Homo sapiens: one gene and its partner. The protein of the gene in region 1 purifies or fractionates together with the protein of each later gene. This does not show direct contact. Each region holds a gene or a part of one and is shown in the gene's direction. Other genes may lie near its edges.

What was found. The genes of interacting proteins can lie anywhere in the genome.
Region 2: the proteins of LRRC3B (region 1) and IMPACT purify together in Homo sapiens (affinity purification with mass spectrometry; one large-scale study listed by BioGRID and IntAct). This does not show direct contact.

What each region holds. Positions count from the first base shown.
Region 1 is NC_000003.12:26,621,128-26,625,854, forward strand, and holds the start of LRRC3B (leucine-rich repeat-containing protein 3B precursor), read left to right. Parts: upstream 1-1,644; 5' UTR 1,645-2,110; intron 2,111-2,471; exon of another isoform or gene 2,472-2,925; intron 2,926-2,953; exon of another isoform or gene 2,954-3,231; intron 3,232-3,518; exon of another isoform or gene 3,519-4,384; intron 4,385-4,727.
Region 2 is NC_000018.10:24,446,911-24,450,669, forward strand, and holds part of IMPACT (protein IMPACT), read left to right. Parts: intron 1-1,182; coding exon 1,183-1,273; intron 1,274-2,908; coding exon 2,909-3,043; intron 3,044-3,759. UniProt on the Homo sapiens protein: Translational regulator that ensures constant high levels of translation upon a variety of stress conditions, such as amino acid starvation, UV-C irradiation, proteasome inhibitor treatment and glucose deprivation.

The sequences.
Region 1 (4,727 bases):
TGATCTGAGGTATCTATCGTGCAATTTGTAGAAGGTGGGACAGAAAACAAACAAACAAACAAACAAATCTTAAATATCCTTAAACTACAAAGCAATTTTCTTCACCTCTGAGCAATGTAACACTGTTCAAACTGTTCTAAAATGCATCCAGAATAAGAGTGCTTCAATAGAAATGAGGAAACTTTGGCAGGCTTTCAACATACTTGACACAGGTCAAGAAATAATCAAGATTTTTTGGTCATTCTCCACTTGGAATGGGTTTGCTCTAGGTGTTGGCAGCTGAACATACATGTCTTGCTCTAGGCAGTTGCTTAGCAGTTTGGTTTTCTTTTGCTTTTGGGAATTCAGGAAACAGAGGTGGGTGGTCAGTGGGAGAAGGTTGATTGTCTAGAGACCAAAATGAATTAAATACTTTATTACCTTTCCAGTAAAGGGGCTGTGAGTCTAACTGTATGTGTGGTTCCCTCCACCACACCCTAAATCAAAAGTTCCATCCCTGGAGTCTCTTTAATTCTAGAGACACTGAGATTTAGCTCATACAGAAGGAGAAAATGACCTTCAACTGGATAAGCTTTCCTTGAGTACCCATTAGATACAAAACACTGCTGGATGTTGCAGTGAGAACAAACAAACAAAAAGCACAGGGAATACTCATATGTGAGTGAAGAGATAAATCTATAAATATATAAGTTCCGCAAGTGATTGGCAAATAAAATTCTGAGAGGGCAAAGAGAGGGGAAAGATTTCTGCCTCGAGTCAGAGGACTGGGGTAGCGGAAAAAAGCTTTAGAAAAAAAGGTGGTATTTGTAGAGTCTGGAGAGGCGGGTTCCTCTGCCCCAAACTGGTGTCTACTGCAGATATGGTAAATAATTAAAATCATGAAATAAGAACATCACTAAAACCATTAATTTGACTTACTCTTAAAACACACGCGCGCACGCGAGCGCGCTCGCACACACACACACTGGCGTGCGCGCGCTTTTTTAAGGGGCCTATAGACTCCATTTCGGCTGCAGGTTAAAGTCATCCCAGGAAGGAGAAAGGAAAATTGAATTCCACCTTCTTCTGATTTAGAAAGCTAGATTGGTTGAGGATCGGGATCAGGGACCACAACTCAACCCCGAAACTTTGGGCTTCCAGAACTGCAGGGGAAACTGATTCTGAGATCAGACAACGGACCCTGGGGCGGGAGGGGGGTACCTTATTCATAACCCTCCCTCACAATAGCGGAGCACAGTACTCAGCACCCAGTAAACACTCATTTGTCGAATTGATTTTAAGCCTCCGCTTTTCCCCCAAGGAGGGCAATCAATCCCTTGCACGTTTTGCTCCTTTCACCAGCTTAATTCAGCTCTGATCTCAGTAGTTAGAAAAATAGGAGAAAGAATGGGGCCATAGCCTGCTGCAAGTAGAGCTGTGTAAGGGGGTGCGAGGAAGGCAGGCGAGAGCAGCAGAGGGAGTTAATACTCCTACCTCAGCTGGTCTCCGGCAGCCAACGCTCAGCCCCCGCCTCCTCTCTCCATTCCGGACCCCGCAACCGCGAGGCGAGAGAGCAGCGCCGGCGAGGCACTGGCTGGGCTCTGACTGTCACGTTAATTCCCTGCTGCTTTTTCTAGTCCCCAGCCGCCTCGCCCCTCCTCCCTCATTCCCAGCCTGGGTTTGGAGGCGATTTCCCTCTATTGACTGAGCCGACTGCATCTCTGGGCAAGCGGCGCTTTGCCTCTCTCCTGTCTTTGTCTGCTCTTCCTGCAAGGCTACGGCGCCTGGAGCAGGGTCTGCAGCGGCCGCCGCAGCAACGCGAGCCAAGTCGTGCCCCGCACGGCCGCCCGGGGCCGCACCCTCGCTCGGTGGCGGCGCCCGAAGACGCCAGCCGCGCCACGCACTGCCTGCGTCCCGCGCCCCAGCCGCCGCGCACCAACGCCGCCGCCTTCGCCGGGAGCCAAGCCCGCCGGGCCGGCCCGGTCCCAGGTGGGCAGCTCGGCTTGCAGCTGGTTGGAGGTGGCGGCCGCTGCAGCCCTGGCAGCGGGCACACCCCTAAGCATACGCACCCAACGCCTCCTCCCTGAGCCACGAGGATGGAGCAGCCACCCCGGCCCGGGACTGGCGCAAGGTAAGGTGCAGCCGCCTGTTGCTTTTCGCAGAGCGCGGGATCATCCCTCTGCCCGGGTACCTAGGCCGTCCCTCCAAGGAACAAGTAGAGGAGAACTATTACACCAGTTCTAAGCCGTGCCTGTCTAAGCCTCCCTGATCCCTTTTGCGCAGACCCTGGGAGAGACCTCCTCCTGGAGAGAGAGAGTCGACCCTCTTCGCTCCTGTTCAGCCGGCTGCTATACAATAGTCTGCAAACTTTTGTGACCCCTTCCCTGCGCGGTGCTCACCCCGTGCTGTGCAACTTGCAGGTTTAGTTCTTGCCCTTCCCCCAGCCCCTCTTGCCATATGCATCTGCCCATTTCTCTCTGTGTGTTCTTGCCAGTCGACTTTTCACTCCCCGCAGCTCTGGCTCCTGAGGCGAGGGTTTGGGACCCAGCAGTGCTCGTCCTGCCTCTAGGAGCTGGGTAGGGACAGAGAAGGTGAAATAAGAGAGGTGGGACATGGAGGATGGCTGCGGCCACCCCTGAAGCTTCGTCCAGCGCGATGGGAGTCAGTCCATCCTTGCACACGCCACCCCCAACTCGGCAATGAAACCTTTGGAGTGGCTTGCGGCTGTGCGCCGTGGGAACTGCAAGTGCAGATATGGGTGGGTGAAGTAAGTGGCTCAGGGAGGGAAAGGCTGCTCGTGCGGTGGAGGAGGAAGCTGAGGGTCGGGTAGATCTGCCCACGGTTGAGGGAAATGAAAAGGTACTGCTAATGTGGGCGAGCGGCCAGCCCTGAGAGGCCATCTGACGAAGAGGAAAAGGGATTTGAGTCCGGAGGGCGCTGGCCTGGGTATGTAAATACAGATGGGGGAGGGGCTGGGTACCTGGGGGCGCGTGGAGACAAGGAATGGAGCCCCGGAATGCCGGGCCCTTGGGTACTTGGGAAGGCAGGCTGCTGAGTGCCTGGGATGGGGCGATCTTCCTCCCCAGAAGCAAACAAACCTCCCCGCGAGAATCTGAATGCGTTGGCATCTTGGGTGGTGACTGAATGGTCAGATCGTGGACTAGGGATGCTTCTCCAAGCTCTAAGAGGACCATAGTCTGCTCTCTTCTCTGGCACCCGCTTGCTTCTACGCTCCTTCACCTCTGCAGCCAGGTCGGTAGACCCACGCCCACCTTCCCTGCCAGGCACTCAGGAGTCAAGGATGTTTCCACAGCCGCAGTGTAGGAAGGGGACTCCTGCCTCCCAGGGGGAGACGTGTGTGCGGGGTAGAGGGGAGTCCCCAGCGCGCGGCGAGTAAACAGGGGTCCAAAGTGGTTGGAGGAGAGCGCAGGAGCGGAGGCTGCGGTGGGAGCCACTTTCCCCCGCCCCTCCACAAATCGCACCTGGGCGGAGCGAGGGAGTGGGGGGAGCCCTGTGCTGCGCCCGGGAGGCTGGGGAGCGCAGAGCTGGAGGGCGTGCAGGGAAACGCAGAGCTAGGAGGTGTGGGCCTCGGGTGAGGGGAGACCCAGCTCTTAGACCTGGGAGCCCAGACAGAGGTGGATCTGCCCACCTTGCAGCTCCCAGGTAGATTCTTCTTGTGGCTCCAGATGCTCTGGCGAATGCAGGAGGGGGAGGCTCTTTTCTCCTTTGCACCCCAGCAATCTGGAGTGCAAGACCGTTTGCGGGAGGGGGCTTAGTCGGCTGTTTCGAAGAGGCAGCCTCCCCTCCCTTTTATCCATCAAGCCCCCTATTTCCTGGTGGGGGCACAGTGACTGCCAAGGCCAGTAAGCACCTCACTTAACCCTTCTCTCCCTGAGGAGGTGCATGCTCCTCTCCCAGAGGTGCCTTTGGCTGAGAGTGGATCCCTGGTTCCTAGTAGCCCTATAGGGAAACATTTGGAGGTTGGGTGGGTTTGGAACCCTGTACAACCTTTAGGTCCTCCCTGTTCAGACCTTCCACGTGCAGGCTTTTCTTACTTTCTCCGCGGGTGCCCTACAGAGGACTCCTGCTGCCTTGTACCAGTTGGGAAAAAGCAAAATTCAGAGCAGTTCCTTTTTCTGGGTCCCTCGCCTTGGCCACATCGGAGGAAACGTCGACTCGCCAGGGCTCCCGGGAGAAATCCCGAGGTCAGTCCCTCCCATTCTGGGGCACCCCTGGAGCAGCTAGCTCCCTGCCTAGCGGTGGCAAACTCCAGAGCCCCAAGGAGCAGAACGGGGATTCCCTGTGCGCAGGCTCCTGGTGCAGCTCCTGAGCACAAAGGCCACACCCTCACAGACCAGGCCTGGTGAGAGAGCCGGGCTTCTTCAGAAGTACCTGGATACCTGAGGTAGGATCCTAGACTTGAAACTCGCACTCCACGAGATTTAGCTCTGACCCCCCCAAGGCTCATTTCTTTCTGGGTGCTTATCTATCGCCTGAATTTGCGCTCTGGCCACTTCTTTTTGCATGTAGAAACAAATTAGACCATGTTCCTTGGCAACTTGAGGAAAGACTCCAAATCCACACCAAGGTGGATTTATTTCAGGTTGCTGAACTGTTCTGGGGAGACAAATAGTAATGTAACAATCAGTGCTAGCTAGCAGTTGTGGAGTTCTTACTATGTGCCAGACACTATCTTTGATGTTGTGTGTGTTTGTGTTAGATTTAACCCTCACAACAACCCTGAAAAA
Region 2 (3,759 bases), on another chromosome or scaffold:
CTCTTATTAGTTAGCAATTCTAGCACTGTAAAAAGGTTAGCTTTTTCAAGATCCCATAGTTAAGTGATGGAGCTGAATTTGATAATCCAATTTCATTTGTTTTCTTTATTTCACTCCTCTATGGCTGTGGCTACAGCTTCAACAATCTTGTATCTAAGCTATGTAAAAAAAGAAAAAAGTACTCATAGTATTTTAACTTTAATGTTCATAGTAGATGGTCAGTAAATATTTATTGAGTGGATGGATGGATGAAGGGAAGGAAGGATGAGTGAATGAATGAATGTGACTGCTGTAAGGTAACATAACTGACTTAGGTGTGTAGATGAGCTTTTATAGCTTTTAGTATTTACATTAAAAGTTTACAGCTTTTTATGGCCAGAGCTGGGAGGATGTCTTTACTACATTTACCCAGTTCCACATGATACCATTGGTAGGGCCCTAAGAAATCCACCAGATGGCATACTGTAACTGACACTATTTTTTTTTTCTCTCTCTAGCACTTATTTGCCAAGCTTATTTTACTGTATTGTAGGCCTACATTATTATTTCAGATATAGCTTTCTAGTTTAAATGGATAAAAATACCACGATTTGTCTCTAATATTAGTAACCATCCAGAGGAAAATTTAAATCTTTACATTCTTAGAAGAAAATAGAGAAATGCTTGATGGCTGGAATAAGATGAGAGGAAAGTATAAAATATTACCTTATGTTGGTTTTGTTGCCTTCATCTTTTTTTTATATGCTTTTTGTTTCACTACATCTTAAGGCTCTTTGAAGACAGATGCATGCCACTTACTTCCTTTATAATATGTCTTAGTACCTGTTGCTTTTATACAGTATATTCTCAATAAATGTTTTTCAATGATTGCTCTTGTTACTTCAAGGTTAAATGAAGTAAGGGGAATGTCACATGGATAAATTCACCTTCCCATAATAGCAACATTTCTGATATAAAGGAGATGCCTTTGATTCCTAGCTTTCCCAAGTATATAAAAAGGCAAACATACTGGATAGTAAACCGTCAGTGAAAATATATCTAATATAATACATATTTCAGGAAGGATTTAAAAAAATGAATATGCTGATTTTGGAAGTAATCAAAATGATCACAAATGTTGAGGAATAAGTTTTATTATAATATTTTAGTTTCAAAGTGTAATACTCTTACATGTATTTGCAGAATATATTGTGAGGATAAACAGACCTTCTTACAGGATTGTGAGGATGATGGGGAAACAGCAGCTGGTGGGCGTCTTCTTCATCTCATGGAGGTAGGTGTAAGTTAAACTATCAATCCTGTTCTGTACAAGCCATAAAATTTCTCAACAAAACAGAGCTCCATTTAGTAATAGCTAAGTCAGTTGAACTATGTAACATAAGATATATTTGATTTAATTAGTAGTTGATGTTAAAATATTGATTGAATGAAAATTTTAACCAGTGGATGTGGGACAGAAAGCAAATAATTAATAAGAAGTGCTATGCTTTCAAGACATAGACAATAGAAGATTGTCTTCAACTTTGGGAAAACACTTTGTTTTTTTGACAATTTCCTTCTCTTTATTTTTTCTATTCTTTCTTTATGGAACTCCGGTTAGTTGGATATTGGAACTTCTGGATAGATCCAGAATTTTTTTTTTTTAAATTGAGTTGTCCATCTCATTGTCTTTATATTCTGAGACATTTTCTTGACTGTTGTCCAAAATTTCTGTTGAATTTGAAATTTTGTTTAGCAGCCATATATTTAATTTTTAAGAGTTCTTTCTTGTTTTCTGTTTTTCCTTTTTAAGAATATCCTGTTCTGTTTTATGGCTCCAATATCTTCTAAAATTTCTCTGATTATATTAATTAGAGTTTCTTTTTTAAGATGTTCTCACCCCTAAAAAAATTTTTCCTGGTCCATTTTTGTTTGTTTATCTTGTCCTTTCTCTTTCATGCTGCTGGATTTTCTTCATCTGTCTGGTGATCATTTATTGTTCATTAATTTTAGGATTGGATTATTTTTTTCCTAAGGTAGTTACCTGGTTTTTTCTGCTCTTGTATGTGAAGGTTTATTTTCTAACAAGGCCTTTCCCTTGAATAGTAACTGTGTTTGTGGGTCAGGCCTGTAAACTGGTGGGCTTCACATTAAGGGCAGCATTTGACAAATGTCAAACTGATGAAGACGGCCAGGTATGGTGGCTCACACCTGTAACCCTAGCACTTTGGGAAGCTGAGGCGGGGAGATCACTTGAGCCCAGGAGTTCGAAACCAGCCTGGGCAACATGGTGAAACCCTGTCTCTACTAAAAAAACACAAAAATTAGCTGGGCATGGTGGTGCATGCACCTGTAGGTCCCAGCTACTTGGGAGGCTGGGGTGGGAGGATCACTTGAGCCCAGGAGGCAGAGGTTGCAGTGAGCCAAGATTGTGCCACTGCACTGTAGCCTGGGTGACAGAGTGAGACTGATCTAGATCTCAACTGATGAAACCTTACTAATAGCACCAGGGATATTGATGCCTCGTGCAGCCCCTGTAGCTTTGTTCAGAAGCAGGGTTTTTTTTGTTGTTATTTGGCCTAGTGGTAAAATGCTGCCTAAACTTAGCTGTTCTGGTTGAAGTCACCAGGTGCTAGAATCCTACTTGCATGGTCTCCCCTTCACTCTGTCCAGTTGCCCCAAATCTGGGAGTTTGAGGACATTGTGAAACACAGTGATGGTTTTCCAGATTCCCTTCTGTTCTTCCATTTCACTCCCTGAATTGTTAGTAATCTCACTCAGTGCCTACTCACTCATATGGCTCTACCATTAAAGTCACTGGGAAATTTTATGTGCAATTTTATACATGGGTTATTTCATTCTCCTTTTTTAAAACTCATATTTATACATGTCTGTCTATGTATCTAATTATGCTTCCAAAAAATAACAGATTTTGAATGTGAAGAATGTCATGGTGGTAGTATCACGCTGGTATGGAGGGATTCTGCTAGGACCAGATCGCTTTAAACATATCAACAACTGTGCCAGAAACATACTAGTGGAAAAGAACTACACAAATTCACCTGTAAGTGGCTCTTCGTACTACATCTAGAGAATTTCTCATCACTGCCTGGGAATTTTTTAAAAAGACAGAAAATTAAGAATGAATCAGAATGTGAGTGGTGAATTGGTAAAACCTTTGGACTCAGAACCTGGAGACCTAGACTCTAAACAGTGTGTCTGGCCAGTCACGTGACTTTGGACCGATCACTTAATCCCTTCGCACCTTGATTTCATAGGACAGACCACTTCATCCCTTCGCACCTTGATTTCATAGGTTCATAGAATTTTATAATTAGAAAAACCTTTTAAGACCAACTAGGTTCCATCCCTAAAATTGAGCCCCAGAGTGGTTGTAGCTGATATCACATCAGACTAGATGTTCTTTAAACATCTAGAAAATTCTGAAATTCTCTGTTAGTGTCAAAACATCTCCCCCTTCACTGGCATACCTTTAGATGCTTTCTTCCTTTATACTTTGAGTTTATTTTGTTTTATATTTTAGGTATGTTCATATCTGCCTTATTTAAATTTTACTGCCTTGGGAAAGTGGGGCAATAGATGAAATAATTTTGAAATTATTCAAACATAAATCCACTAGATAAATAAGGTTTCCTTGATTATTCTTGATTGTTTAAAAAATATTAGCCTATAAGTGAAAGTACCCTTTAAAACACAGAAATGACACATATAAAAGTGATTATACCCTCACTGTAACATATATACATACATACATATATG